Regions from separate parts of the Homo sapiens genome. Here all the other regions are reported to be linked to region 1. The links are microRNA targets in miRTarBase. Many come from high-throughput screens and were not tested one by one. Region 1 holds a microRNA gene; each other region holds the end of a gene's coding sequence.
Evidence for each region. Region 1 holds the annotated microRNA hsa-miR-411-5p (UAGUAGACCGUAUAGCGUACG, at 1,978-1,998, shown strand). A microRNA usually pairs through its seed, bases 2 to 8, with sites in the 3' UTR of a target mRNA and lowers its output. Matches are read on the target gene's strand: a 7mer-m8 pairs with bases 2 to 8, a 7mer-A1 pairs with bases 2 to 7 and ends in A, and an 8mer does both.

Region 1 (5,074 bases):
AACAACTGAGTTGCAGGGCCCCGTCTACACTGGGGTTCAGGACTTTAGAGGACAACCGAGCTGTCCTGCAGGGCTGCTGAGGGTTCTGCCCTTGTCCTTTCCCTGGAGGCTAACAAATCATTGCTTTGCATTCCATTCACATGGGATAGTTGTGCCATGAAAGGGGATGGAGAAAATCAAGGAAGACCTCCTGAAGGAGGTGGAGAGGTTAATCAGGAGCTGGAGGAACGCACTGCCCACTCAGCTCTGTGGTTTGAGTCTCCAAAGGTGGTCTAGAGCATGGCGAGGACCATCGGAACTTGGGTGAGCTAGGGAAGTTTTTACCTAGAGGTTGAGGGTCCCCTTTTATATGATGAACTGTGCTCTTGGAGTGTCCCATTTGCCATGCAGAACAAAACACTGCCCTTTATCTTGATGAAGAGATAGTTGACCACATAATGGCCAAAGCATGGTCAGTATTGTACATTTTGCCTTGTCGCAGTCTTTCCAAGTTGACATGGCCTTCCTGGAGGAATTACCACTTAGGGTAGAGGCACCCCTTCCCCCATCAATGCCACTGCCCCACATTGGAGGAGGGGTTGTTTATGTTCACCATGTGCCTGCTTCCAATGCCAAATCCAGCCTCAGAAAGCTTTCTGGAAGTGACGCCAACTTCAGGGGCAAGGCCCTGGTTCTGGGGTCAGCACCATTCCGTGGTTCCTGAAGAGATGGTAGACTATGGAACGTAGGCGTTATGATTTCTGACCTATGTAACATGGTCCACTAACTCTCAGTATCCAATCCATCCTCGGAGGGCTTCCTGGAGGTGTTGCCAACTTCAGGGAAGAGAACACGTGGTTTAGCTTCAGCACTGCTCCACGGCAATTTCTGTGGCTCATGGTTGATGTCTGACTTGTGCAACAAGGCCTGGCTCTTCTGGGCACTAAATGCACTCTCTGGGGAGTTTTCTGGAAGTGATGCAACTTGGGCTCAAGACACCGGTTCCAGCCTCAGCCGTGGTTCTGGAAGAGATGATTTGCCATGTGGCCTGTGCGAAAGGAGGGATTTGTGTGAGATGGGCTACCACTTCCCAGTAGCCTGCCAGCTTTGGAGGGCTTCGTGGAGCCAATACTACCTTCAGGGGGACCCACCAGTCCATCCTTCATTCCGCTGTGTGGCATTGAAGAGTTGCTTTCCTGTGTTGAAGTTTTCTGTTTATACCAATGTCCACCTCTGATCAATCTTACATTCAGTCTCAGGGTTTTCCGGAGGCAGTGCCAAGTCTGGGAATGAGACAGTGGTTCTGTCCTTAGGGAGGTGGTTGACCAAAACAACTCCTGCTTTGTTCATGAAGATGGCATGGTGGTTACTGCTCAGAATCTAATCCAACCTAAGAGGACCTCCTGGAAATGCCCTTGGTATTGAGGCAGATATGGCCTTAGGGCACTTTTTTTTTTTTTTTAATGCCCAAGACTAGAGCTCACTAATAGGTAAGATCTGGGCCTCAGGTGCCCAGTACTGTTTCCTTGGCCTGGTTAGTGTAACTAGATGGATGTTCTTTGGTTGCACGTGGGCCATTTTGTATTTCTGATTTTCTCCCCACTCCCCTAACCAGCTCTGTTAGCCATGTGCCATGTCCTCCCTCCCATCTACCCACTCCTTCAGACCCAGCACAGTGCGCCTGGCACACAGCAGGCACTTAATCAGTATTTATGGAGTGATGAAATCCATATCATCGTCCACTTCTTCTCAGTGGGACTTTCGGCCTCGAAGGGCTTCCTGGAGGAGTTGCCAGTTTTGGGGATGAGCCACTGCTTCGAGCATTCATGTCAACCCCCGACCATGAAGACGAGACTCCTGGCCTGTGTGTGCTTGTCGCATGATGCATGTGCTGTGCTCAACCTCCCTTCTGGTTCCACCCAGCTCAAGGCCTTGGAGGGCTTTCTGGATGTGTCCTGAGCCTTTGTCCTCGGCATCTCTGTGTGGTACTTGGAGAGATAGTAGACCGTATAGCGTACGCTTTATCTGTGACGTATGTAACACGGTCCACTAACCCTCAGTATCAAATCCATCCCCGAGGCTCCTGGAAACAACGCTGTCTTCGGGGAGGAACGGTTGGACCCACCACCACTTCTCCATGACACCCGAAGAGATGATTTTCTGTATGGCATGTGTTTTTCTGCATGATGCAAAATGGCATAATCTCGCTCCTCTTAAATCAAGTTCTGCCTTGGGAAATCGCGCCATCCCTGGGGAGGAGACCTTGATTCTTCCCGGAATCAGTGCCATTCCATGGTGCTCAATGACGTGGTTGACTACGCTACGCTTATTCAGTAGACACCGTGACCTGCTTCTTCTCAGCGTCAAATGCAGCCTAGAAGAAGCGCCCTCAGGCAACTTCGTGGACATGAGCCTTCTTCCAGCCACCACCACCACCATCGTGCGGTACTTGAAGAAATGGTTTACCGTCCCACATACATTTTGAATATGTATGTGGGATGGTAAACCGCTTCTTGGTATCCAGCCCAGCCATCCAAACCTCCCTGGAGAAAGCCTGGAGTTAGAGGAGAGCCACGGGTCTCGGCATCCGCCATGCCATGGCACTTGGTGGAATGGTAGACTCTTAGATGTGTGCTTTCTCTGTCAATGCTTGTGATGCGGTCTTCTCCTCAGTGCCAAACACAGCCTCCAGTGACTTCCTCAGGACAAGGATGACCTCCAGGAAGGTGTCCTACTGCCCACGTTGGCACATCCCTCTGGAGTAATTGAAGAAACGGTGGCTGGTGCCGCAAATGTTCATGAACGAGGGATGTGAAACAGGTCACCTCTCATCCTCAGAGCCCTCCTCAGATGACTTCAGGACAGTACGCCCATGTAGGAGCAGATATGGGTCCAGGAGATGATGCCACTCCAGGTACTTGAAGACGCACTGACTCGTTTTTGTCTTTGCTGATGCGTGTACAGTCTATCTTTTTTCCATCTCAAGTCTAGCCATCTCGGGGGAAGATGTCCCAGCTCTGGACTCAGCACTGATCCTCATGAAGAGCTGCTCGACCCCATCGTGTATGTTTACAGAGGAAGTGCCTCCATGGCCCACTTCTTCCCTATCTCCATCCCAGAACCCTTGCTTGGAGAACTTGCTGAAGAAGCTGCCAGCCTCAGGGACAGAGCACTGGTTCTGGCCTCTTCACTGACCTCACGGTACCTGAAAAGGGTTCAGCCACACTGCATGTCTTTTCCCCATGACGTATGTAACATGGTCTACTTCTTTTGAAGTATCCCATTCAGCCTGGAAAGTCTCCAGGGAGGTTATGTTAAGCTTAGGAGACAAAGCACCAGTTCTGGTACAAGTACTGCCTCGGGGTACTTAGTAGAAGTTGGCCATGCTTCATATGTTTTACTTACAACGCATGTTACTTCGTCCACCTTCCTATAACAGCGTGCACCTCGGGGGGCTTTCTGTAGGCAGGAACGAGTGTCAGTCATAGCACTAGTTCCAGCATCATCTCCATTCTTGAGGGGCTCCTTTGTGCTGCGTCCACTGCATCTGCGGCAGACATTGCATGGTGGCCTCTTCTCAATACTACATCAGGCCTCAGAGGGCTTCCTGGAGGTGATGCTAGTGAGAGGAAAGAGACACCGGCTCTGACCTCAGCCCTCTCCAAGGTACCTGAAAAGATGGTTGACCATAGAACATGCGCTATCTCTGTGTCGTATGTAATATGGTCCACATCTTCTCAATATCAAATTCAGTCATAGAGGGCTTCCCAGAGAGAGGCAAAGTCACCTTCGTGGGAGACACACTGATCTGGCTTCAGCGCCATTCCACAGTACTTGGAGAGATGGTAGAGCATAAAGCATATGCATTGTTGAATGACAGATGTAGCATGGTCCACTCATTCTCAGTATCAGCCAGCCCTGGGGCTTCCCGGAGGCCATGCCGACTTGAGAGCCAGGCCTGAGTGGTAGCCAGGGTGCAGTGCAGGTCACCGGGTGGTTGGCTGCAGACCCAGTCCTTTATTTATTACATTGGCCATTTGGTCCACCAGCCAAGAACTCAGTACCGGTCCCACCCTTACAGGGCATCCTGGAGGTGGTAGTGGCATTGGATGTGGGTTTGTGGTCATTGCCACATTGCCGGTGGCTGGTAGTTCATGATGCGCATTGTGAGGCTTTCTGGAGGTGATAGCAGGTGAAAGGAAGAGAGCCAGGGGTCAGCGTCACTTCCTGGTATTTGAAGATGCGGTTGACCATGGTGTGTACGCTTTATTTGTGACGTAGGACACATGGTCTACTTCTTCTCAATATCACATCTCGCCTTGGAAGACTTCCAGGAGGTGATATCAGCTTTGCGGAAGAGCCACTGTCCTGGTGTCAGTACGGCTGCTGCTTGGTACTTGGAGAGAGGTGGTCCGTGGCGCGTTCGCTTTATTTATGGCGCACATTACACGGTCGACCTCTTTGCAGTATCTAATCCCGCCTTGCAAGCTTTCCTGGAGCTAACATCAACTGCGGGGGTGGGGGCCACTAGGTCTGCGCTCAGTGTGACCCAGCGGGGTTTGTGATGTGTTTGTCTTGTGTGTGACGATAACTCACGTGTGGCAGCCTTCTTCTCAGCACACTGCTCTGGCTTGGCAGCAGGGTTAACTTGCGGACAAGGAGCGTGGTGTCAGCACGTGCCTGGATACATGAGATGGTTGACCAGAGAGCACACGCTTTATTTGTGCCGTTTGTGACCTGGTCCACTAACCCTCAGTATCTAATGCCCCCTTGGAGAACTTCCTGGAAGAGGTGTCAACTTTTTGGGAAAGAGACAGTAAACTGGGGCCAGCTGCACTCTGTTAGACTCTGAAGAGAGCATCTGCGAGGCGTTTGCGACATGTATGCCAAATGTGGCTGAGTTGGACTGATTTTCACTCCGATCTCTTTCCTTGGAGGGCTTCCTAGATGTGGAGGCATCCAAGTTCAAGGGAAGGGGCATGCTGTCTATACCATCCCAAAGTCCTCCAGTGATCAGCTGACCTGAGTGTATGCACTTTAATTTACAACCAAGGTCGCCTGGCCCGTCACACCTCAGTCTCCACTGGGTCCTTAG
Region 2 (5,074 bases), not on the chromosome of region 1:
TTCAATTACTTAAAAACATCACCACTAGTCTCTCTTTTTCTCACTTGCTATCTCTCCCCTCCCCTCACCTCCTTTGCAGCAACCCACTGCTATCTTTCTCCTCACTTGGTTCAGTATTCCTGGAATATTTAGCTGCATGACAGGATGAAGATCCACAACTAAATACCATTTAGCATTGATGGTTCAGTACCGTGGACAGCAGCACTCATGTTGGGAATGGGCCTTACTGAAATCGCAGAGTGACTTTGTAAGTTTGGTATATCACAGAATAAATTTGTTGGCGTGGCTACAAATGGATAAGGTGCTGGCCAGAATATTAAAATTCATGGCCGAATTAATTTTTTTTTCTTCCCTTCATGGAGGGGAGGAAAAAAAAAATTAACATTATCACAAAGAAAGGCTGGCGCATAGTAGCACTCAAATACCTTAATTGAATGAACTTTTCACCTTAATGATAAAGAGTGGCTCAATATGTAGGCGTATTTGATGGCTCTTTTAAAGTGATCATTCCAAATCAATAACTGCAAAAGAAATTTGTGTATTTTTTTACTGTGCTGTCCATGGTGTCAATGAATATAAGGTTGTCAAAAGTTGAACTAAAAAATGAGGACTGAGTTGAGATTCAGTCACTAACACAGGATAATGCAAATTAGTTTTAGATGTAAAATTAAAAACATCATTGGCTATTTTTATGACAAAATTTTAAAAGTCCTTTCATGGCTTTGTCCAACAATTTAAATGACCCCATCATCCATCCTCTGACACAAGTAACTTAAGTGAAAGGTTACTTGAAACTTCACCAATGGAGGCCTGAAAATTTAACAATATACTTTTCTGGCAGCATTCTTTCATCTTTGTCACCCTGATACAGTTCCTAAACAGAAAACAAACTAATGCTACTCAAATTTACATGTTTACATAAACTCACATTTCATGTGTCATCTGTTCTGAAGAGTCTTTTTCTAAAATTAGTTCCTACAGTTCTTGAAGTGTGTGACTCTCATTTTGACACACAATCATACAATGGCTCCAACTTTTGCTGCCTGACTCGTATGTCCTCTGAAAGACAAACATTAAGAGCTATGTGAAGTAGTTCACTTACTTTTCTGTTACACTTCATTACACCTAAAAGGGCTGCCACACAAATACTGAACACTTACAAATCATCTTCTTTCTGGAATACAAGAGTGCATCTCTTTGCTTCTTGGCACATGTATCTCTGGAGTATGACAGTACGATCAGTGAACTTGTCCTTTAAATTGATGAGATGTTATTATCACTCCTCTTAGTTTTACCCCAACTGGGAAATGTTCACATAACCATTTAGACGTGTTGCCTTAGATCAGCATTTATCCAACTTTTTCCCTAAGGCATCCACCTCTGCTGGCAAAAGTGCATGAAGTAAAGCAGGATCAAGGAACATTATTCCAAGTTGTAGATGGCAAATACAACATTTCTTTGAACTCTCATGCTTTACTTTAAAATACATTAGAATTAATTTTGCACTCTATTCTATAATTCATTCATTCAACAAATATTAGGGACCTACTGCATGCCAGGCATTATTACAGGGATACAGTAATGAATAAACATATCTGTGTTTGTTTTTAACCTAGTGACATTTTAATACAACTGGCACGAGTAGAAAAACAAAAACTTTACCAAATCAAAGAGCAAAACCGATAATCCAAGATGGAACAATTATTGCTTCAAATACCACTCGTCATGCTATTGCAACCTGAGAGTATATTTGCACCCATTTGAGCAGCATAGTCTTGGGCTAATTCCCAGAATACAAAGCCAACAGTAAATATTTACTCTAGATGAAAATATTTGAGAATGTTATTAGAACTAACTAGGTTATTAGAAGACAACTAGGTTGTCTTCATTTTACCATTAGATTCTGCCTTTAGGTTCTGAAATGGCAAAGGTGGACATCCACTTTAATACCTGGAGAAATATATAAAATTTATTCTTAAAAATCACATGAAGTGGATGGGAGGTTATCATTCTTGACACTTCAAAGTTAAGTCTTGATTTCAGCACCACATTGCTAACAATTGCTTTTTATTTTTTTTAACCTTAATTGAGCAGCTTCTTCCAGGTTCTTATGTATCTGCTGATCAGCTTCAAAAAGATGGGAAAAGCAAAATCTCACATAGGACAAACTTTTGGATTTCTCTCTGCAAAGAAATGCTGAACATTCCTGTTGTTATTCCATTCTATTGGTCTGGGATCAAGGCTGACGTGAAGATTCCTTGAAAAGTATTAAACTCCTCAATGGTAATTTTATCTTAAATAATTTGCTTTTTGATTATAAGGTCTAACTCCAACAATAAATGAAGGCTTAATATTGCTGTTTGTGGGTATGTGGCATATGTATTTTTTACTGGAGGCAGCTCTTTATAATAGCTTTATGAATTTAAAATAGCACAACTGATTTCCTATTGGGGTTAAGAGTCAGTCCTCCAAAACTGTAGTGACTGAATAACTTGCATGAAGACTGGCTCTCCTACCTGGAGCCACCAAGTCAATCATCCCAAATTATTACAAAGGACTCTATGTGCACGGATGTTAATGTGTTTCTCTTGCAGACAATGTACGATCCCCAAAATTCAAACTCCTTCAGACTGGTTAATTAGAGAAGAGGTAAAGAAAATACCAAAATATATAGACTTCACGACTACAGGACAGTGGTTCTTAACCCAGATTGTGCATCAGAATAATCTGTAGAACCAGTATGAGATTTTGCTGTTTTAAAATTCAGACTGGGGATCAGTGTTCATAAATCTAACTTGAGAGGGGCCTAGGAATGCATACCTTTTAGAAACTCCACAAATGATTCTAATTTAAATACTGTAATTTAAATTTTAATTTAAATTCTAATTTAAATACTTTAAGACTGCTATGGTTTGGATATTTGTCCTCTCCAAATCCCACATTGAAATTTAATCCCCAGTGTGGTGGTGTTGGGAGATGGGGGCTGGTGGGGTGTTTGGGTTATAGCAGGTAGATCCCTCATAAATAGATTAATGCCTTCCTGTGGGGAGCAGGGGTGAGGGAGTTCCCACCAAAGCTAGTTTAAAAAAAAAAAAAAAGCCTGGCACTTCCACCCTCACTCTCTGGCCATGTGATCTCTACACACATAGTGCCTCTTCCCCTTCTACCATGAGTGGAAGCAGCGTGAGGCTCTCACCAGATGCAGATACCCAATCTTCAACTTTCTGGTCATCCAGAATTATGAGCCAAATAAACCTTTTTTTTTTTTTTGAGACGGAGTCTTGCTCTGTTGCCCAGGCTGGAGTGCAGTGGCGTGATCTCGGCTCACTGCAAGCTCCACCTCCCGGGTTCACGCCATTGTCCTGCCTCAGCCTCCCGAGTAGTTGGGACTACAGGTGCTCGCCACCACACCTGGCTAATTTTTTGTATTTTTAATAGAGACGGGGTTTCACCGTGTTAGCCAGGATGGTCTCAATCTCCTGACCTCGTGATCCACCTGCCTCAGCCTCCCAAAGTGCTGGGATTACAGGCGTGAGCCACCGCACCCGGCAAACCTTTTATAAATTACCCAGCCTCAGATATTCCTTTACGGCAATACAAAATGGACTAAAAGGAAGGCTAAACTTCATCTTACTTATGATCATAATATGGCCTCCTGGTTTTATCAAGACTTAAATTTAGTGTGCCTGGAGGCTAGAATCTGGATGGTTTAATGTGCTAGTCACCTCAGTTTTCTCACACTTCATACAATGCTTGAAATCCAGAAGTAGCCAAAGTCTCCAGCATAGAAATTCCAAGTTATTCCAATTTCCTGTGTATAAACTCATGTGCACAGCAGCAGCCTACCTTCGAGTCTTGGTGCTATAGGCAGGATCTCTCTCAAATACTAGGTGATTTTAAATACGTAACCTTGTGCTCAACAGTAAGAAGCCTTGAACATTTTATATTTGAAATTTTAAGGTCAGTTTATTAAGTTCAATGATGAAAGCTATCAGAAGAATATTCTCCTGAAAATAATTTTTTCTTAGAAAAAAAGAAAGGAAAATCATAACCCTCTGAGCATAGCCACAGATGCTGTGGCAGTCAAGCCTCTCTGCAGATGGGGACAGTCCATTAGTCAGCTGAGTCACTCTCTGGGTCAGCAGGATTATAGTCTGGATCATCTTCATCATCCTCCAGCTCCAAGTCATCCATTTCTTGGAACAAAGACTCATCTACCTCCACGTTGTTTCCAGCTGCAAAAGGCAACCAAAAAAAAAAAAAAATCTCCTTTAGTCTTATACTCAGAAATAGAAGATAAAACTCATTGGCACTACCAAACAGAAATCTCCAAATCTGCATATGAGGTAGGAGTGATGAAATCCCAAACTACAGTTATCAACAGTGATTTGCATTGGTCAGTAGAGACTCTGAAATTTTAAGAGCAACTTCATGTTCCTAGTTCATAGTCTAAAAATCCAGTTATTAAAAAAAGCTTACTAGAATTTATAATGTAGCATTTATATGTTGAAGACAAGGATAATATGTTCTCCTGGTTATAGAAAATTGATTATCACTGATCATGGGACCTGTATGAGGAGTTATCTCTTCCAGTAGTGGTAGATAAGCACATCGTTAAAGCTCAGCCATACTTGTTAATTAATTGATTTGATTTGATCTTCATTCTCACCCAGTTCCCCTTTTAGCCAATGGTATGCCTTCAGTTACAATGTCTAAAGCCTACAGGAAACAATACCCAGGCTCTGCATTAAACATCTTCACTCTTCAGTGTGTCTGAAGTAGGTAATACAATTAAGTCCTGGCCAAAGAATAACTGGCTCTGTCTAGGAGACATAGCAAAGGCATCATGGAGCAAATGAAGTCTGAAATATCTTCATGATAAATTTGAATCCACCAAGAAGAAAAGGAGCCAGGATGAAGCAATTTTAGGTAGAAGTATACACAAAGGCAGAGAGAAAATATAAGACCTTGAATAATTCTAACTGGAAGATGAAATTCCTGAGAAAAAATACCTGAAAGTAACGTAGATGAGGGCCAGATTTGAGAAAGATTGTGTAGGTCATTCTCTCCCTAT
Region 3 (5,074 bases), not on the chromosome of region 1:
CTTCCTCACTTCTCTCAGCCTTCATACAATGGCAGTTATGGCCTTGCTCTGGATTAGGTTTTGGCTTAAGGGAATTTGTGGTTGGTTTGATCCAGACCCCTAAAACTTTCTCCATATCAGTAATAATGCTGTTTCACTTTTTTTGGTTTCATTCTGTCACACAGGCTAGAGTGCAGTGGCACAATCATAGCTCACTGCAGTCTCGAACTCCCTGGCTAAAGGGATCCTCTCACTTCAGCCTCCCAAGTAGATCGGACTACAGGCATGCACAACCACACCCAGCTAAATTTTTAATTTTTTGTAGAGACAGGGGTCTCACTTTGTGGCCCAAGCTGGTCTCGGACTCCTGGCTTCAGGGGATCCTCCCGCTTTGGCTCCCCGAAGTGCTGGGATTCTAGGTGTCAGCCACTGCACCTGGCCACTTTATTATCGTTCATGTGTTCCCTGGAGAAGTACTTTTCATTTCCTTCAAGAACTTTTCTTTTGCATTCACAACTTGACTGTTTGGCAGAAGCAGTCTAGCTTTTGGCCTATCTCAGCTGTTGACATTAGCCTTCCTCACTAAGCTTAATCATTTCTAGCTTTTGATTTAAAGTGAGAGGCATGTGACTTTTTCACTTAAACACTTAAAGGTGTTTGTAAGGTTATCAATTGGTCTAATTTCAATACTGTTGTGTCTGAGAGAATAGTGAGGTCTGAGGAGAGGGAGAGAGATGGGGAACCATCAGTTAGTGGAGTAATCAGAACACACACACACACATCAACTAAGCTCACTGTCTTAGATGGATGCAGTCTGTGGCACCCCAAAACAATTACAATAGAAACATAAAAGTCACTAATCACCAAAACACATATAATGAAAAGTTTGAAATATTTTAAGTTTCTGTGTAAGACACAGAAAAATGAAATGAGCACATGCTGTTGAAAAAAAATGGCACTGATAGTCTTGCTCAACACAGGCCTGCCACAAACCTTCAGTTTGTAAAAAATGCAATATCCGCAAGACACAATAAAACAAACTGCAATAAAATGAGGTATGCCTGTACTTTGATAATCATTAATTCATTATATTTTAGAAACAAACATCTGTTTTACAACAAGAAATAGGTGGCAAAGGTGGAGGGTGCTGGACGATTGGCAGGCAGCACTTGGGACTGGATTCCTGGGATGAGACAGAATGAGAGCAGTAGCAGAATAAAGGAGACAGGATAGAGACAGAACTACCTTTTATATTTTCTCAGCTGTGCCACTAATGCTTACCTCTCTATGCTTTCTTTATAATTTTGTATAAAATATGTATATTTCTAAACAGTACATTATTTAAGATTTTTAAAAATTTCAGCAAATCATGTTACAGGCCAGGTGCAGTGGCTCACGCCTGTAATCCCAACACTTTGGGAGACCGAGGTGGGTGGATCACTTGAGGCTGCCAGGAGTTCAAGACCAGCCTGGCCAACATGGTGAAACCCTGTCTCTACTAAAAATTAAAAAATTAGCTGGGCGTGGTGGCACACACTACTCAGGAGGCTGAGGCAAGAGAATCACTTGAACCCGGGAGGTGTAGGTTGCAGTGAGCCAAGATTGCACCACTGCACTCCAGCCTGAGCAACAGAGCAAGATTCCATCTTAAAAAATAATAATAATACTATTACAGTCTGGGGGTTTTTTTTGTTTCAACTTGGGTTTGGGGAGTTTGTTTTTTGCTTTGTTCTGTGTTTGATGATCATTGTATATAATATCTGGTAGCATAAAACCCCCCATCTTGTTCTTCAAAACTAGGTTAGCTACTCTGTGTCCTTTGCCTCTCTATACACACACCCCTCTGGAATTTTTATATTGTTTTTAATTTATGAATTGATAAAAATTGAAATCTTGATGAAACTAATCTTTCCTACCCATGAATATAGTGCATCCTTCTGTCATTTAGGTAACCTTCAATGCCTATAATGGGTATCTGATATTTTACAGCTGCTCAACATATTCTGAAAATCCCTTCCCCATTTTCAGACTTCTTCATACTATGACTCTCTTCCCAGGCAGAATCCAAAACCTGTATTTCCCAGAAGCCCCTGCAACTTGGACATACATATATAACCAACTCCCACCGAGCAGGTACACCCTGGCTGAAGACAGAAGACCCTACCAAAATGATTGTAGGGGTATTTTTACTACAGAATGTGAAACGACCTTCCTGGTGGTCCAGTCTCTTCAATGGGGGGTGGCAGTCCAGTAGCAGGCACCAGCAGCTGCTGAGTTTCCACTGGAACCACTTGGTTCTGTGGTTGGTCATTTTTCCTGGCTTCTGCCTATGTGGCATCCCAGCTTAGCTCCTCTTAGACATTTTGTAAGCTAATTAATAGTATGGAGCAAATCTAAGGTAGATTCTTCAGTCTACTGCTGATCACTGACACGGAATGAGGAACCAGAAGTGGGTTACTGAGTGTGACAGAACCTTAAAACACTGGCACTGTTTAGTGGAAGTGACTGAGAATACGGTGGTGAAGAATCAGATACGGCAAGGTGAAAAGTAGATGGGCGAAACGAGGTGGCCACAGCCCTTCCGAACTCAAGTTGGCTCCATATGTTCTCATTCTAGCACGGGGCTGAAGGCGCAGCCACTTTCTGGAGCTTGCTGTTCTCTCGCCGAAGGCAGAAACATAACCATCAGCTGAGCATGAGAACTGAGAGGGATGCTTTGGAAGTTACAGAAGAGAGAAAGTATAAAGTAGTGGCCTAGGAAAGCAGGGGAGTTAAGTGGACTCCAAAAATTGTAGTATGACCATCAGGAAACGTTAAGGGCCTCCATGAAGTTACTGGTCATGAATTTAAAGTGACAGTTCAGCCTGGTAATATGCTTTCTCCTGATCATTTTTGGTGCAGGAACAGAGAAGGCAAAGAACTGCATTTAGTCAGAGATGAGGTTTTGCCAAGCGAGCATGACAAAGCAAGAGAAGGGCAAGGGAGTTAATGGAGACTGTAAGGCATTATTTTAAGAATTAACCATAGAGTTTATGCTGGGTAAAGGAGGAGGGGTGGGCATTTTCTGTTTGAAGCATATCTCTCAAAGTATGGTCCATGCTAAAGATCTGGCCATCACCACAGATAGCCAAAATCAGAATTTGTGCAAGAGAGAAAACTCTTCTTTTTACAAGCACACTATGTAATTCAGACACATGGTAAAGTTTAAAAACCAAGAATGTAAAGGTTTTGCTATTAATTGCTATAGAGAAACATCTAGATAGCAACATCAGCAAAAAAAAAAAAAAAATGTATGGACCCTTCCATCAAAGCTTAGGACTTACTGTTTACATTAATGCCAATAAATGCATAATTCAAGTTCTTTTTCCAGTAACTACTTCACACAGTCCTCTGAATAGTTGTAAAGGATCCTCATCAAGGCCACTTCCAAGAGCAACCCCAAATTCCACTTCACTAACCTACCTAGCCACTGACCCACTACACAGCTCCCTTTATTTCTTAAAAAAAAAAATTTTGGAAGCTTATTCAGATTCCCCTCGAGTTGGCTTTACACCATTATTTTTATTTCTTTAGTAATTAAATTCATATTTATAATTCATAAATATGAAATAAAATATAGAAGCCAGTGCTCACAAAGAAAAAAAAACAGAATGCTCATCAAGAAAAATCTGCACAACAGATTCAACAAAGATGAATGCCTTTGTGTATATTTACTTACGAAATAAAAGTTAAAAGAAACATCTAGCTATCAAGAGCAAAACTAAAGAAAAAAAAACTTCACGTTTAAAGACATGATTACTCTCACTGCCATCAACATACTTTTTTTTTTTACTGTTTATTTCACATTATCTTTTTCACAGATGTATGAGATTCTCAAAGATCTGTGCCAAGGGCAACATAACTTCAACTGTATTAATACCCCACCTAGCCATGGGCCCACTAAACAATCTCCATTAATCTCTACAGTCCATTGTTGGAAGCTTATTCCAATTCTCTACCAGTAGCCACAGGTCTTGTATGTTTCTCCCAGGCTGCTTATCTCTAATCATAATGGCCTAATACAGGGATATCCTCTTTTCCAAACTTTCCTAACACCAAAGTGTTCTACCACCAGCAACCCCACGATGCAGATACAGCCACTGTTGTTCAAGCCTGAAAGGGACCAATGCAAAGGTTAAGTATTTCCATTTTCTACCCAGAAGAGATTATGTAAACACGGTCTTTAAATGTATATAGATTATAATGGAGTTTATGTTGAAACAGCTGTTAACACATGTAAGGTGATGAAAAAAATACAAATGAAACTCAAATTAGGTTGGAGGCTGGGCACAGTGGCTCACTCCTGTAATCCCAGCACTTTGGGGGGCCAAGGCAGGCGGATCACTTGAGGTCAGGTGTTTGAGACCAGCCTGGCCAAGATGGCGAAACCCCATCTCTTCTAAAAATACAGAAATTAGCTGGGCGTGGTGAGGCGTGCCTGTAATCCCAGCTATTCGAGAGTCTGAAGGAGGAGAATCGCTTGAACCCAGGAGGGGGAGGTTGCAGTGAGCCAAGATCACACCACCGCACTCTAGCCTGGGTGACAGAGCAAGACCCTTTCTCAAAAAAATATATAAAATTAGGCTGGAGATTTGCTAGGCATAAGAGCCGTAAGACTGCCAAGATAAAGCTCATGAGGAGTGAGAAGAAGGGGTGAGAATAACTGGGGAAGGTTTCACAGTGGGAGTAAGACCCTGGAAGACACGCACTATTTGGGCAGATGAAGAAGGTATTCCAGATGTAGGCAGCAGCATGAAAAAATTCCCAGAGGTAGGAATGAGCACAGCATGTGGAAAGGTCAGTGAAGGCACAGCTACGGCTGAAGCAGAACAGGATCCCTGGAGAAGAACAGGAGGTATGGCTGGAGAGGAGCACTGGGGACTGACCAGGGATGGCCCAAGGACCTTGACTGGCTTCTTCTCCACAGGGTGCAATTTCTGATGCTGAACAAAACTTCCATACCATTTGAAGGCTTTCCCACACACCTTACATTCATAAGGCTTCTCCCCAGTGTGAACTCTCTGATGCTGAATGGAGGCTATTTTCTGGGTGAAGG
Region 4 (5,074 bases), not on the chromosome of region 1:
TGTTTTGTTTTGAGATGGAGTCTCGCTCTGTCACCCAGGCTGAAGTGCAGTGGCACGATCTCGGCTCACTGCAACCTCTGCCTCCCAGGTTCAAGCGATTCTCTGCCTCAGCCTCCTGAGTAGGGATTTCAGGTGCCCACCACCACGCCTGGCTAATTTTTGTATTTTTAGTAGAGATGGGGGTTTCACCATGTTGCCCAGGCTGGTCTTGAACTCCTGACCTCAGGTGATCTGCCCACCTCGGCCTCCCAAAGTGCTGGGATTACAGGCATGAGCTGCTGCGCCCAGCCAGAAGTCAAGAGTTTTTAAATATTTTATTTGGATTGTTGAGGAAGATTAAATCCAGGACAAGTTGCCACTAACACATATTACACAGCTTGAACCTTGGTGGCTAATTGCGCTATTACTGTGATTGATGAACACTATGCTGCAATCAGCTGGAAGCTGCTGCCTTTCATTTGACAGAAATGAGGTCACAGAGCAGGGCTGGGGAGCTGCCATCTCACAAGCAGGTCTGGTTGTCTGTTGCCCAGTAGACAAGCTTGCCACTATAACATTTAACTCTTGATTCCATCTATTGTGAAGATGCTTGTTCCCTTGAACTGGCTCCTGAGTTTTACAGAATTTGACAGTTTTAAAGAAAACGATTTCATCTTTGCCTGGATATTCAGTAGGAGAGAAAAGATTATTGGATATAGATACTAAAATATCCAGGCGTCATGAGGACCTTGGTCTGAAATCCTAGTACTAGAGTAGGTGAGTGTTAATGACCAGAAAAAAATAGTAATTATCCATGACACTGTATACAATGTTACAGTGTAAAAATCACACCCAGAACCACTGCCCTCTGAAGCAACTGTATTATACCCATGGTCAGAAAAGTTAATCAAGTCACTCTTCACAAATGCCCCATTGCTGGAGCATAGAGGCTGTTCAAAGTGGAGCATGGAGGCTCCTGCTGATTGGGAGCCTGATAAGTGTTGCCTGGCAGAGGCAGATACAGGGAAAGCCAGCACTTGGGACTGGGAAGCACTGGGCATTTTCTACCCAGGCCCATGGGATCTGTTGCCTCAGAGACTGACTCGCCTTTCCTGAGCATTAGACATCCATCACCTGGGATTAGTCTGAGTAGTTGAGCAATTTGTTAACAGATTAGAGATATACATCTTTTCTCCAGTGGACTTGGAATCTGATGGCCCTGGAATTGAATCCTAATGTGGCTTTAACACTCTCTTGGTATGTGATCCAAGTCTCGTAATCTCTCTGGATCATAGTTTGTCTATAAAAGATGCAGCCCAGAATGTGGTTAAGAGCACAGACCTTGGAGCCTACTGCCTGGATGTGAACTCCAGCTCTACCACTTACTTATTATGTGACTTTAGAGGTCCAGCTAGAACCTCTTTGTACCTTTGTTTCCTCATCTTCAAATGAGGCTCACTATAGTGCCTCCCTCACAAGATGTTGGGAAGATAAATGAGTTAATGCACGTAAAATGCTTGGAACAATGTCTAGTACAGAGTAAGCATGACATCAGAGTTGGCCGAGACAACTCTTGGATGCCAATCCTGATCTCTCAGGTTTGTTTGGTGGATCAACTGAAATGGTGAAGGTGAAAAAAAAGAGACACCGAGTTATTAGTGCCAAAAGAGACCTTAAAGATCATCCAAATAAGCTCCCTCATTTTATAAGTAGGAAATCAAGACTCAAAAGTGGAAAGTAACTGGCCCAGAGTCACAGTTGATTTAATGACAGAGTCCGGGTCTCCTGATTCCAAGTCCAAAGCTCTGCTCTCTGCATTGCATCAAAGAAAGCAACATCTTTGTAGAGCTGACTCCTTTAAAAAAAAAAAGAGAGAAAGAGAGACAGAGAGACAGGGTCTTATTCTTACTCTGTCACCCAGACTGGAATGCAGTGGCATAATTACAGCTCACTGCAACCTCAAATTCTTGGGCTCAAGCAATCCTCCTGCCTCAGCCTCCCAAGTAGCTGGGACTACAGGCATGCACCATCACATCTGGCTAATTTTTTTTTTTGTAGGGATAGAATTTGACCACATTGCCCAGGCTGGTCTCAAACTCCTGGCCTCAAGTGTTCCTCCTGCCTTGGCTTTCCAAAGTGCTGGGATTACAGGTGTGAGCCACAGCTGGATGGTCCTTTTATTTAGTCATTGGACTGGTTGCTAGTTAATTACTTTTCTAGGACAATGAGCCTCATTTGAAATGAAAAGAAAACTGGCGAGAGACTCCTCCTGCCCGCTGACTTTTGAGGTGGCTGAGGATTCAGGCCATGATAGAGAAGAAAGGTTTTCTGGAATCACTGCCAGTTCCATGTCATTATTTCAGCCAAAACAAAATATGTCCCTGTGGCCAAGCAAGCTAGAATAATGAGCTAATTTATTCTGGTCTCTGAGTTTCTTTTATTTTTTTCCTCAGGTATTTAATTAAGGGGCTTCCACCAGAAGTGGTTTCCCACACTCTCTGGTAGAAACTAAGGTTTCACTCCCAGGAGAAAGGGGTTGGGATCGGGATCTCTGAGTTCAATTTTCTCAATTTTTTCAGAGTCATGCCACCTTAAGATTTATTTTGCTTTGAATCATACTTCTCAGTTAGACTGCTCAAGAGCAGTTAAAAGATGGATTGGAGGAAAAGGGCAGGATAGGGAGAAGACCCTATGAAGAACAGCAGATGGAATTATAGAGGTATTTGACCTAGAGAAAAGGCAAGTCCCAGGAGTCATGATTCCTGTTCTCAAATAGTCTGAAGACGTCACAGGGCAGAGGGAGCACAGACTGTGAAGTCTCTGACAGCAGAGCTGGTACCAACAGGGAGGGAAGAAGAAGAAGAATTTCCAGGAGGCAGATTTGAGCTCGATACAAGGAAAACTTTCTATGAGAGTTGACAAAGATGGTGTGGAAAATGAGCTCCTGTCCCTGCCTAGAAGGTGTGCTTTAAAAGAAAGAGATTTGATTGTTAGGCTTGACAGTCACTTGTCAGAAAAAGGAAGGTTAGAACTGACTAGTCAGACTAGGTAAATTTGGGCATCCCGTCAAATCTAAAATCCTCAGGTTCTAGGAGTCTAAGAACTAATAACCAATTTCACTAAGTTCCCACAGTTAAGAACCAACTGGAAAGCAGCAAAATCAGAAACTCATGATCTGTTTCTTGATCTTGCCTGTTTCTCTTTTTCTCTGTTTGTCTTTCTTGAGCATACCTACTTGCTCTTTCATATAGCAGGAACCTCTGACATTTTGTAGGGGATAATCCTTTTCTCTTTTTTTTTTTTTTTTTTTTTTTGAGACGGAGTCTCGCTCTGTCGCCCAGGCCGGACTGCGGACTGCAGTGGCGCAATCTCGGCTCACTGCAAGCTCCGCTTCCCGGGTTCACGCCATTCTCCTGCCTCAGCCTCCCGAGTAGCTGGGACTACAGGCGCCCGCCACCGCGCCCGGCTAATTTTTTGTATTTTTAGTAGAGACGGGGTTTCACCTTGTTAGCCAGGATGGTCTCGATCTCCTGACCTCATGATCCACCCGCCTCGGCCTCCCAAAGTGCTGGGATTACAGGCGTGAGCCACCGCGCCCGGCCAATCCTTTTCTCTTAAGTGTGTTTCTGACTCAGCCTTTGCTCCTTCAGCATCATTAGAGAGTCTGAGCTCTCTGAAGATTAGCTCTTCCTGTCGCCACAGCAACTGCCCAGGCCCTGTGGGCATCCGTGGTAACAGGCGCAGGGCTTTGAGAGCCCAAGCTTGACTTGTAGTGAGAGAAAGCCCCGCAGGGAGCCCGATAGGAAACAAGCACGTTGTGCTTTGAGAAGTTGTCTTTAACAGGATTAGCTATGCAGGCGAGCCTCACTTTACGCAATTGGCATGCCCCTGAAGAATGTGTGCGTGTCAAATTTTGGTAAATGGAGGAACTCTCATTTTAAAGGCAGAAAAGAGACTGTTCTCTAAGTCCCTGTAGTGAATCCCCTTCGTAAAACAGAGTCTTCTTTTGTAAAGTGATTCTGCACCCGTGTAGTGACCTGTTATGTTAGTCTAGTGCTGAGTATCTATTACTGGGACCATCTGCAGAGAACCCCAGGGGCAGGCAAAGAATAGCAGCAACTCATCTTGCTCTGAGTGTGGGCAGTGTGTAACAGGGAGAGTGGGCTGAGAGCGGACAGTGTGTAACAGGGAGAAGCAGACTGGGTGTGGGGCCACAATGAGGGGAGGTCAGGAAGGTGGGCCTTGCCTAGCATGAGCAGTTCTGCTGCAGCAGCGGTGGGGTGTCCGAGAGACGCGTGTTCTTGGAGGAGCCCAGCATCGACGGGTCTGTGTCCAGCGAATCAGACATCTTGTCACAAATGGCATCCACCAGGCGCTCAAAGGCCTGCCTTACACTGATGTTCTCCTTTGCACTGGCTTCAAAGAAATCAAACCCTGGAAAGAGGAGAGATACAGATAAGGACTTTTCCCATCCCTTCTGCTGGAACCCTTCTGTGCCCTCAGCCCAAGCACTCTGGATTAATATGTCCAGTGCTCAGCAGTGAAGCAAAGAGGCTAAATTCCACGGACATGGGATTCTGCTTCAAGGAGACGGTACAGGGCAGGAGTTTCCTGCACTGGTCTTTCAGTCAGACTGATCCTAGCTCTACCACCGCCCAGCTGTTTAATTCCGGGCTGAGTCATTTATTCTCTTTACAAATCAATTTCCTGGTTTGTAAAAAGGGATAATTTTACCTACTTCATAGAATTATTTCAAGGATCAGGCAAGACAATGTATGTGAAATATATAACCCTGTGCCTGACACAGAGGGGGTCATTAGTGTTTGCTGACAGAGCAAATGCATAAACGTGTGTCCACAGCACCTTACAGTTTCCAAAGCACTTATCACATAGATTATTTTATTTGATCTTCATGTTGCCCCTGAGGAAGGAGTCTCAGTCAGATCCTCTCCACTTCACTAATACAAACACTGGCTTACAGAAGTAAGCTAGCTTGCCCAAGATAAGGAAAAGCACCAGTATGAGAAGCCCAGGTTTTGGACTTTTTCGCAGGGATTTTCCTCCTCTTTCCCCTGCCTCTCATTCCCCCTAGGCT
Region 5 (5,074 bases), not on the chromosome of region 1:
TTGCCTTTTTCAGCAGGTGGTTGGTTTGGTTTGACAACTATAAAAATGCTCCTTTCATTTTACAGGAAATTTAGAGAAATATAGGACAGTTGTAAGAAAAAATATCACTTAGTTTTCCCATTTGGAGGTATCAACTATTAACATTTCCTTCGAGTCTTTCTATTCATTTTTTTGCCTAGTGGAGATCATGTGGTACACCCGGCTTTTTCCACTTGAGGCTGTCACATGATCATTTTCTCATATTAAGAATCAACCGTGAACTGCTTTTAAAACACTGCCTCCCACTGCATGCCGTGGATGTTCTTTAACATTTCTGCTGCTGGCTCTTTTCTGCCTTCCTCTTTGGTATTTTGATTTTGGCTTCTCTCAGAAACTCATTTTAATTTTTGTCTCCCTATAGCTGGAACAGCTTTGGGTCTTGGGGTTGTGAACATCCTCCATACCATGAATCCCTCCCTTGTGATCCTCTCCGGAGTCCTGGCCAGTCACTATATCCACATTGTCAAAGACGTCATTCGCCAGCAGGCCTTGTCCTCCGTGCAGGACGTGGATGTGGTGGTTTCGGATTTGGTTGACCCCGCCCTGCTGGGTGCTGCCAGCATGGTTCTGGACTACACAACACGCAGGATCTACTAGACCTCCAGGAACAGACATGGACCTTCTCTCCAGAGCTCCTGAGTGGAATCAAGTTCTTGTCTTTAGGATGACCGTTTCTTAACAATCAAATCTGGTATTGAACTGCAGGTGACTTTGGCAGAGAAATGTTTTCACTTTTGGTCTCCTCTTCCAGAGTCACCTTTCCCCACTCCTATTTTTGTAGATGCTATTCTTTCTGATGTCTTCTTACTAGGGGTCATTTTAGCTCAAACCCTGTAAGTTACAGTCACAATTTTCTGTGCCAAAGCAGCTACAATAATAGAGAGGAAGCCTTCTTAGAACTCTGCTTACTAATGTATTAATACCACTGAGACCTTCAGGCCTTGCCTGGGATATCACTTCATCCTGAAGTTTGCATTAATAATCCTTCCAGGCCGGGCACAGTGGCTCACGCCTGTAATCCCAGCACTTTGGGAGGCCGAGGCGGGCGGATCACGAGGTCAGGAGATCGAGACCGCCCTGGCTAACATGGTGAAACATGGTGAAACCCCGTCTCTACTAAAAATACAAAAAATTAGCTGGGTGTGGTGGCGGGTCCCAGCTACTCGGGAGGCTGAGGCAGGAGAATGGCATGAACCAGGGAGGCGGAGCTGGCAGTGAACTGAGACCGCACCACTGCACTCCAGCCTGGGTGACAGAGCAAGACTCCATCTCAAAAATAATAATAATAAATAATAATAATAATAATAATAATAATAATAATCCTTCCAGCTGGGCGCAGTGGCTCACGCCTGTAATCCCAACATTTTGGGAGGCCGAGATGGGCGGATCACCTGAGGTCAGGAGTTCAAGACCAGCCTGGCCAACATGGTGAAACCCCATCTCTACTAAAATACAAAAATTAGCCGGGCGTGGTGGCATGTGCCTGTAGTCCCAGCTACTCGGGAGGCTGAGGCAGGAGAATTGCTTGAACCCGGGAGGCGGAGGTTGCAGTGAGCCGAGATCATGCCACTGCACTCCACCCTGGGTGACAGAGCGAGACTCCGTCTACACACACACACACACACACACACACATCCTTCCTCCTCTAACCCCAAACTAAGATCACAGAAGGTGATCCAGTCAGAGAACAGAGGGAAATCTTACCAGGAAGGGCTTAAGTACACTTTTTTTTAAAACAGCTTTATTGTTTTTAAAGCCTACAATTTGATAAGCCTTGACATATGTATACCTGTGAAAGCATCACCACAATCAAGACACTGGACATATCTATCACTCCCCCATCTCAGATATCCCCCCTAATCCTGGATACCATTTGTTGAAAGATGTTATTACTCTAGCTGAACTTACAAGAGACTTTAGACCAGGGATCTAAATTACAGTGGCCTTAGTGACCTTGTCCTTATCTTCTTAGGACAGCTGAGAAGCCACTGGGACTTAGAGCCTTTAAAAGGAGATTAACTGTCCCAAAAGGATCTTTGCTACTGACCAGCAGACACTTCTTCCTTCAGTAGCCTTTCATACTGTGTTGAGTAACACCCTAGGGTGTCCATTAAAGTTTTGAGTTTTACCTAGAGCCCAGAGCCATGAATCAGGATTCTGTCTACATGATTCGTGTTTTCATTGGTGTCAAAATACAAAAGCCAAAGTTCTGGCTATGAATTGTTAACTTGGAAGAAATACTAACTGCCACCACTTATTAAGTGCCTACTGTGTGCCAGGCTCTGAACTAGGTGCTTCATATACATTATCCTAAATTATCTCAACATATGAGGTAGGTGTTTTAATTTTTATTTTATAGAACTTGGTGTGTTTGACTGTTAAGCTATGGGGCTAGAGAGAGGGTTTGATCCCAGGTCCCTCTGTGCTTTTGCTGCTGAGCCACACAACCTCTCATTTCAAAAACACTTTCAAAATGCTAACATATTCTAATTCACTCTAGGCCACCAAAAACTTTAATACTAATATCTGATTTGTAAATGACTTAATGTATCCTTGACCCTATCAGCTGAATTTAATGAAATATTCCTCTCTGCTGTGAAATTTTACCAGTATAGTATTTGGTCTAGTGACAGGTGTTCTATTTTTTTGAGACGGGTCTCACTCTGTCACCCAGGCTGGAGTGCAGTGGCTCAATGCAACCTCTGCCCCCCAAGTTCAAGTGATTCTCCTGCCTCAGCCTCTTGAGTAGCTGGGATTACAGGCACATGCACCACGCCCGGCTGATTTTTTTTTGTATTTTTAGTAGACAGGGTTTCACCATGTTGGCCAGGCTGGTCTTGAACTCCTGACCTCAGGTGATCCGCCCGCCTCTGCCTCCCAAAGTGCTGGGATTACAGGTGTAAGCCATCACACCTGGCCCTAGTGACAGGTTTTTATGGGTACTTTTAGATGATCTAAGAAATCATGTGCATATATCTTTCAGATTTCTATTTTGGGAAAATGAAGGTTTCTACAACATATTGTTTCAGTGTTCAAATAAACTGAAGGACTCAACATTACATTTGAACTATATCCTTCCTAGTGGGTTAGTGTGAAAAAGAGTTTGGCTGATTCCTAAAACTCTGCCAGCCCTGCAGTAATCTCCAGGGCCTGGTTATTGTTCAGACATTCCATGGTGATTCCTGGGAAGGAAGCTTGGCTGCTCAGTTTCTGAGTCTGGGGTGAGATAATGTTCTGGGAAGGGACATCTGTTCTTTGGTGTAATCTCTCATGGTGAAATCTGCTCTGTACATCAGACAATTGCATTGCTACCAAGTTTCATACCAAATATTTGAAAGGATGGTATTGAATCTAAAACCAAATATTAGTTTTTATTAAACTCATGGGAAGGCTAATATATTCCAACGTAAATTATTACATATGGTTAAGTAATTGCATGTTAATTTATTTTAATGTAAATATTTTTGTTACTGTTCTGAGCCAAATTCTAAAGAAAAAATAAATACATTTCCTTGTTGAAATCCTGTTGTATTTTGTTTTGTTCGTAACTCATTAGCCAAAAGCATTTTCCTTCCCAGAAGAGATTTAATTGTTGCACTGCTTACGTTTTGAAGGTTATATAACTTCCTTAAGGCCTCTAATATCATTGCTTTCTTAACCAAAAAAAGTCTATTAATAGAAAGCATGGCTGGGCATGGTGCCTCATGCCTGTAATCCCAGCACTTTGGGAGGCTGAGGCAGAAAGATTGCTTGAACCCTAGAGTTCGAGACCAGCCTGGGCAACATGCCAAAACCCCATCTCTACAAAACAATACAAAAAAAATTAGCCAGGCATGGTGCAGTCTCAGCTACTCAGGAGGCTGAGGTGGGAGGATCACCTGAGCCCGGGAAGTGGAGGCTGCAGTAAGTTAGTTATGATCATGCCATTGCACTCTAGCCTGGGCGACACAGTGAGACCCTGTCTCAAAAACAACAAAAACAAAACATTGCTATATATAACATTGAAAATTTGGCATAAAAAAGCAAAGTAGCCCCCAAGAAAGAGGTTTGAAACTAAGTGTTAAGCATTTACTGAGTCCCTAGACCCACTCCCTCTTTTTATGAGGCCCTATGTGGGTCTCATACAGGCATTAGAAACAATCCCAAATTACTATTGCTGTGTAACCTCAAAACTGAAGAGCTTAAAACAACAGTAATTGTTTCACGTCGTGGTTTCTGTGGGTCAGGATTTGGGAAAGGCTCAAACTTGACAGTTGTAGCTCAAGAGTATCCTGCACTTGTAGTTGTCAGCTGGAATAGCACGAGGCTGGCTGGCCAGGCATCTCCCAATGTGTGTGGTTACAGGGTCTCTCAGGTGGCCTCTCTGTGGGCTAGTTTGGGCTTCCTCACCACATGGGTAGCTTCAAAGGTAGAATTTTTTATGAGGCGGCTCAGGGCCACCAGCTAGTTGCTCCAACAAATCAACCATCAGCAGCACTGCCTTTTATGACCTAGCCTTGGAAGTCATCCCAGCATCACTTTTGTCACATTATTCAGTCACCTCTCCATCTAGAGAATGTCACAGATTTTGTTGACATTTAAAATTGCCACCTCCCACCTCAAGAAGCCCAGCTGGTGTGGGAGGCAAGACTGGTCCAGACGATGGCACCAAGACTACCAAAAATAAGCTGCCCCAGGTAGATGGCCATGGGAGTTCAGGGGAAGGGGGGTGGCCTTTGAACTAGTTCTTAAATTGGATTTTGACATTTGGAATGGGATTAGCAGGTCCCGTAGGAACAAAAGTCTGGGAACAATGATTGCTTGATTGTAATAAGATTTGACTAAAGGGGGAGGAATAAGCAGAGGCCAGAAATGTGGGCCAGGTCAAGGAAAGCCCAACTAAGCTTGGAAACGGGGAGGTAGCAGGAAAAGTAATGAAAGCTCCTTCCAGCCAAAAATAATTAACATTGAAGAGATAGTGGCCTTTCCTTCTTGGCAATGGCAACACCTAACCCCCATCCTGAGCATAGTATTACAGTTTACCTCAATCTCCAGT
Region 6 (5,074 bases), not on the chromosome of region 1:
TCATAGGGTTAATGCGAGATGATACAATATACGAGGATGAAGATGTAAAAGAAGCCATAAGAAGACTTCCTGAGAACCTTTATAATGACAGGATGTTTCGCATTAAGAGGGCACTGGACCTGAACTTGAAGCATCAGATCTTGCCTAAAGAGCAGTGGACCAAATATGAAGAGGTAGCACAGCTTTATCTACCTGACAGTGTTGCTCATTAAGGATGGAGTTTTAGAAACAAGAGAAACATGTTCATTTGCATAGTGTTAGAGTTCTCTGAGTCATGTCAAATAAATATGTGAGGTTAATAAAGCAAATGTTATTTCCGTTTTAGAAGAAAACCACATTGAGTCTTACGTGTGAAATGATTCTTCTGAAATTACTAAGCAAGTCTCTAATATAGAGAGCCAGGACTAAAATCCAGGTCTGTTGCCTCCCAGGTCTTTGCTGTTCCAGCTCTGCACTCTGCTTCCTACTTAGATGAAAAGATCAGCCCATTGAGTGTCCCTCCAGATCCCAAGAAGAGCTTCTGTGAAGCAAACTCTCACCCCTTGAACTGCATTGAAACTAGGCAAAGGCCTGTGGACATTCATTTCTTTTTCTTCCCGAAAAGACTTCCCCCTCATAACCTATCAAAGCAACTTATCACACCATCACCACAGATTTGACATTTTAAAAAGCAGATAGTTCTTAGGTTGAGAATATGTTTTCTAAAATTGGAAATTCAAAAGTAATTGCTTTTTTCTTGTTATTGAAGACCTGTTGAGTGTTTGGGATATATCAGTACGTGATGGTAACATATAATATTTCATTCATTCTTTAGGAAAATTTCTACCTTGAACCGTATCTGAAAGAGGTTATTCGGGAAAGAAAAGAAAGAGAAGAATGGGCAAAGAAGTAATCATGTAGTTGAAGTCTGTGGATGCAGCTGTTATGAAGATGGTTAAACTTGAAACAAACAATTTTAAGAATTATTTGGTCTGAAGATGTTTTACTTTAAATAAATGTCTATTGTAATGGCTGGAGTTTTTGAATTCCAAACCTTATACTGAATAACTACTGAATCCCTTTACTGTTAAATTTTTTTCCAAACTTTCAAGATATATTTAGTTGTGTTTAACTGCTACTTGGAGCTCAGAAGCCACTTTATCAGTTTTCCTCACTGGTTGGATAGCCTATCAGTTTATGGAAGGATATAACTTCCGTAAGTTACATCCTTATGGAAGCTACTGAATAAAAGAAGGGGGTATGCACCCCCTAGTTTGCCAAGATTGAGAAATAGCCTCTTCACTGGTATGCAAACAGATTTGATTTTGCATCCTATCATTTAAAAAGAAATTATGTCTGCACCCCAACATAGGCATACTTAAGTAATATACATACTCCTGTGCTAACATGTATACTAGAAAACAAAAAGATGTTAGAAAAATAAAAGTATAAAGACAAATCATACTGTCCCCATATCCCAGTGACTTTTCCACTTTGGAAATGATTGTTATGAAGTTTAAGGGTTGGATACTAGTCAGTTAAAAGTTTTAAGATTATAGGGTAATTTTTAAAAATATAAATTAGAATCATTGGCAAGGCATGGTGGCTCATGCCTGTAATCCCAGCACTTTGGGAGGCCGAGGCGGGCGGGTCACCTGAAGTCAGGAATTTGAGACCAGCCTGGCCAACATGGTGAAACCCTGTCTCTACTAAAAATACAAAAAATTAGCTAGGCGTGATGGTAGGCACCTGTAATCCCAGCTACTCGGGAGGCTGAGGGAGGAGAATTGCTTGACCCCAGGAGGTGGAGGTTGCAGTGAGCCTAGATCACACCACTGCACTTCAGCCTGAGCGACATTGACTGTCTCAAAAAAAAAATTAGGATTATTCAATGTTGTCATCATTTCCACTCCTAAATTCTGAAATGCTTTCTTTGGTAGAGGTGAGAGTGTGGAGCCACAGCTAGTAGAGAAGGAACAGTAGGACCTGCAGCCTCCCTGGTTTTCCAGGACAAGTCATTGCTGTGTGTGGCAGGAATGCCTTACCTCAAATAACAAAACAGTGTGAAAAACGAATTTGTGTTACATTTAAAGTTTGTAAAGCAATGAGAAATGTGTGTATCATAAAGAGCATCTTTAAATTTTTGCTAAAATATTAGCCTCTTAAATTCTCTAGGAACCCCCTCCCCCGCTTTTTTTTTTCCTTTCGCTGGTCGTTATTTTTCTAAACCTATCCTGAAATCATGTCAATTTTCTTTTGTATGGTTGAAGACAACTAGATCACTTGATAATGGTTTTGCTCAGGTCACATTGTGACAAGGTTTTAATGTAGTCCTACTTTGCAGAAGGAGGCCAAGAAGATGGGCTGTCTAGAACCCCCTTTAAAAGCATTTGTCTATTCAGAAAATTTTCCTGAGTAGATCTCTGCAAAGGCTCTTTTAATAGTGATTTCAAGATCACGTTTGCAGGACTCTGGTCTATTCGTTCAGACGTCTACTGTGCACAATTACAAGGAGACTACAACTGAGGCATCTCAAAGAGCACTGTCAAGGTGTGTAGGGAGCCGGGTGGGTGGAGGGAGGCTGGGCTCTGACCCTAGAAACCATGCTTATGAATGCTGTTAATGTTTAAAGCAAGCCTAAGGGCACTGCTGAAGGACAGGGGAACAAATAGAACTGACCAAGACTGAGGTATAACAGGAACCCCCAGGCTATCCACCTGCTCAAGGTAAAGTGTGGTATTACATAAGGCAACCTCTGATTTTGTAAGAGTTCTTCCTAAAGCCAAAGTGTATGCCTATTCTATGTTTCCAGATTACTTCATTCTTCTAAATGAGAACAAGTGTGCAAAAGTTCTTTGAACACTAGATCAATGTTTTGTGTTCATTATAAATTATGGTTATCGTCCTGCTTGTTATGAAGACTAAGAAAGTAGATCTAGTATTTGGCTCACACAGGTGAATGGGTGAGAATTTGTTAATCCATCAGTGAAGTCCTTTCATTTGAAAGAGAGGGCCTTTCTATTATCAAAAGCCGTCCTGTGTGGAAAATCACCATGAGAGTGCCTGAAACACAGGCACTCTGCATTGTCCTGTAGACCAAATCTACATTGTCCTGTAGTCTGGTCTACATTGTCCTGTAGACCGAATGGTAGAGTGATTCAGAGCTAATTCTGGGTTAGACTGCACAGGTCTGAATCTATTTGCTCACTGTGTAGTGCTTTAGGAATACAATTTAACCTCTCCGTGCTTCAGTTTGTTTGTCCCTAAGATAGAGCTAATGATAGAAACCTACTTCACCCAGTTGTGAAAATTAACTGACTGCATGTCAAGCACTAACAGTTTCTGGCATATAGTATGCATAATGTAAATTATGTGCTGAGAAGCGAGAAAGAATAACTTGGGAAAACGCTGAATATCATCAATGTCGAATAGCTAACCAGTAGCTAAGGTCCAAGGTCTCCTCTCTTCCTTCTATGTGGCACTCTTGTTTCTGGTTCATCTACTCCCCTTGGGTGTCACCTCCTTGAGTGAAGTACCTGCTGGAGATGAGAAGAGTGGAACTGGATCTGCATGACAGCTTTGATTAGGATGGAGCTAAGACTTGGCTATCTCCCTGTTTTGTGTTTTGGATGGGTGACATTTTAAAACTGCCAATATTCAAATCCTGCTAATTTGCTTTGTACAGTTTAAAATGTTTGATATCTTTTGTTGTTTAAAGTTTGAGATTGGTTTTGAATATACAGTTTTCCTACATCTTGAAGAAAGTTATGTTTGTTTACTCTGAAGTGGTCTATGTTCTGTTTGTTTGTTTTACTATACTTTGCAAAAAAACAGATGGCTGGCTTATGTTCACTGTTGTAGTGCACTACCTAGTATCACTTGGCCTTCCTGTTGTCAAGATGTAGGAAGCAGCGTAAGGGATGTCGGGCCTTCAGACCCCCAATTGCCAGCTGTGGTCCTAGTTCCAGATTGCATGGAAATATTTGATAACATTCCTGCACTGAGTTATCATGGTCTGAATATTTATGTGACGCTCTACGAGTGGTACCAAAATGTTAGTGATGGAGTTTTTACTAATGGCACCTTTTCCTGTTTTTAAATTCTAGAATCTTAATAAATCCAAAGTGTACATTTTGGTAGTGATTTCATTTAGTTATTTACTTTAAGGACTCCCTTTTCAAGCATTAACTCTGCACTAATTTTGACTTATGAAAAGATTCAGCAGTAAGAATAAAAACTGGGCCAAAGCCCAAAGTAATAATCCTTCACAAATAGGATGGAGTTTTAAAAATATGGGCATCCTGTGTGTAGCTTTGAAAATAACCAAACTACTTGGAATTAAAAAGTTAGGTGAACATGAAGATTGTCATAACCAAATCCTTGACAGCTTGATGGATGAAGAGCAGATGGGTTTATGGTGTATGGGAGGAAGCATGGATTTTAGGAGGGACAGTATCAGAGAGGGATGGTTAGAAAGTGAGTAAGACAGGTTGCTCTTTGGAAAACAAGGAAAATCCCTTTATTAGAACAAGGCATGAAATTCTGCCACTAGGTGGCGATGCCCTATAACTTTACAACTTAGTGTACATCACACGAGCACTATGGAAGATTTCTCCATTCTGCGCCCCACCAACTCCCTCCCCTCCTTCATTTTTCAGGATGACAACACCTTAGAGGTTTATGGCCATCAGGAGAATTTACTACTAAGCTATATACTGATGTAATGAAATCTAATATATGTTGTGCAATGAATTATGAGATGTTATTTAGTTTCAGGATTTTATTACTTCAATCAGTTATGACCATATTTCCTTTTATATGATTGCTCACTCTTTAAACATACCAGATGACTGTATAAGGAACACCTAATAAAGTCTATAGATGTTAAAATATTTTAAATGTTTTAATTTATATGCCATAATTTGTTTACATTCTGGTTATACTGGCGTTCATATTAAAAGCCATAACATGTTAGAATCTGAGATCTCAGGTCGGATAGTGCCTCTAAGTTATATTTTGCTAAGAAATTTTATTGTATTAGCAATTGAGCAAGAAAGAAGAACTGAATCATTATACGGTGGTTAATTTTTAGCAT

Region 2: miRTarBase lists RWDD1 as a target of hsa-miR-411-5p. The part of its 3' UTR that is shown has no 7-base or 8-base seed match.
Region 3: the mRNA of ZNF621 is a reported target of hsa-miR-411-5p. The part of its 3' UTR that is shown has no 7-base or 8-base seed match.
Region 4: miRTarBase lists RAB3B as a target of hsa-miR-411-5p. Seed matches in the 3' UTR shown: 7mer-A1 at 3,463-3,469, 7mer-m8 at 532-538 and 7mer-A1 at 169-175.
Region 5: the mRNA of GNE is a reported target of hsa-miR-411-5p. Seed matches in the 3' UTR shown: 7mer-A1 at 1,152-1,158 and 7mer-A1 at 1,481-1,487.
Region 6: the mRNA of UQCRB is a reported target of hsa-miR-411-5p. Seed matches in the 3' UTR shown: 7mer-A1 at 1,685-1,691 and 7mer-m8 at 2,470-2,476.

What each region holds. Positions count from the first base shown.
Region 1 is chr14:101,021,363-101,026,436 of GRCh38, forward strand. It overlaps MIR411 (microRNA 411), which reads left to right and starts at 1,963; the gene lies at 1,963-2,058. It overlaps LOC124903407 (mucin-2-like), which reads left to right. Exons shown (of 5, transcript XM_047432049.1): 5 at 1-5,074. It overlaps MIR379 (microRNA 379), which reads left to right and starts at 704; the gene lies at 704-770. It overlaps MIR299 (microRNA 299), which reads left to right and starts at 2,432; the gene lies at 2,432-2,494. It also overlaps MIR380, MIR1197, MIR323A and MIR758.
Region 2 is chr6:116,592,141-116,597,214 of GRCh38, reverse strand. RWDD1 (RWD domain containing 1) reads right to left here. Exons shown (of 7, transcript NM_015952.4): 7 at 1-4,235. The coding sequence ends at 4,114. Among named protein-coding and RNA genes, the nearest start is that of RSPH4A, 22 kb to the left of the region's middle. RefSeq lists silencers at 92-292, 42-342.
Region 3 is chr3:40,532,666-40,537,739 of GRCh38, reverse strand. It overlaps ZNF621 (zinc finger protein 621), which reads right to left. Exons shown (of 5, transcript NM_198484.5): 5 at 1-5,074. The coding sequence ends at 4,650. Among named protein-coding and RNA genes, the nearest start is that of ZNF621, 10 kb to the right of the region's middle.
Region 4 is chr1:51,915,702-51,920,775 of GRCh38, forward strand. It overlaps RAB3B (RAB3B, member RAS oncogene family), which reads right to left. Exons shown (of 5, transcript NM_002867.4): 5 at 1-4,413. The coding sequence ends at 4,226. Among named protein-coding and RNA genes, the nearest start is that of NRDC, 40 kb to the left of the region's middle.
Region 5 is chr9:36,212,927-36,218,000 of GRCh38, reverse strand. It overlaps GNE (glucosamine (UDP-N-acetyl)-2-epimerase/N-acetylmannosamine kinase), which reads left to right. Exons shown (of 12, transcript NM_005476.7): 12 at 401-3,560. The coding sequence ends at 636. It overlaps LOC124902151 (a long non-coding RNA gene), which reads left to right and starts at 3,990. Exons shown (of 2, transcript XR_007061474.1): 1 at 3,990-4,715.
Region 6 is chr8:96,226,873-96,231,946 of GRCh38, reverse strand. It overlaps UQCRB (ubiquinol-cytochrome c reductase binding protein), which reads left to right. Exons shown (of 4, transcript NM_006294.5): 3 at 7-173; 4 at 815-5,074. The coding sequence ends at 892. Among named protein-coding and RNA genes, the nearest start is that of UQCRB-AS1, 5.9 kb to the left of the region's middle.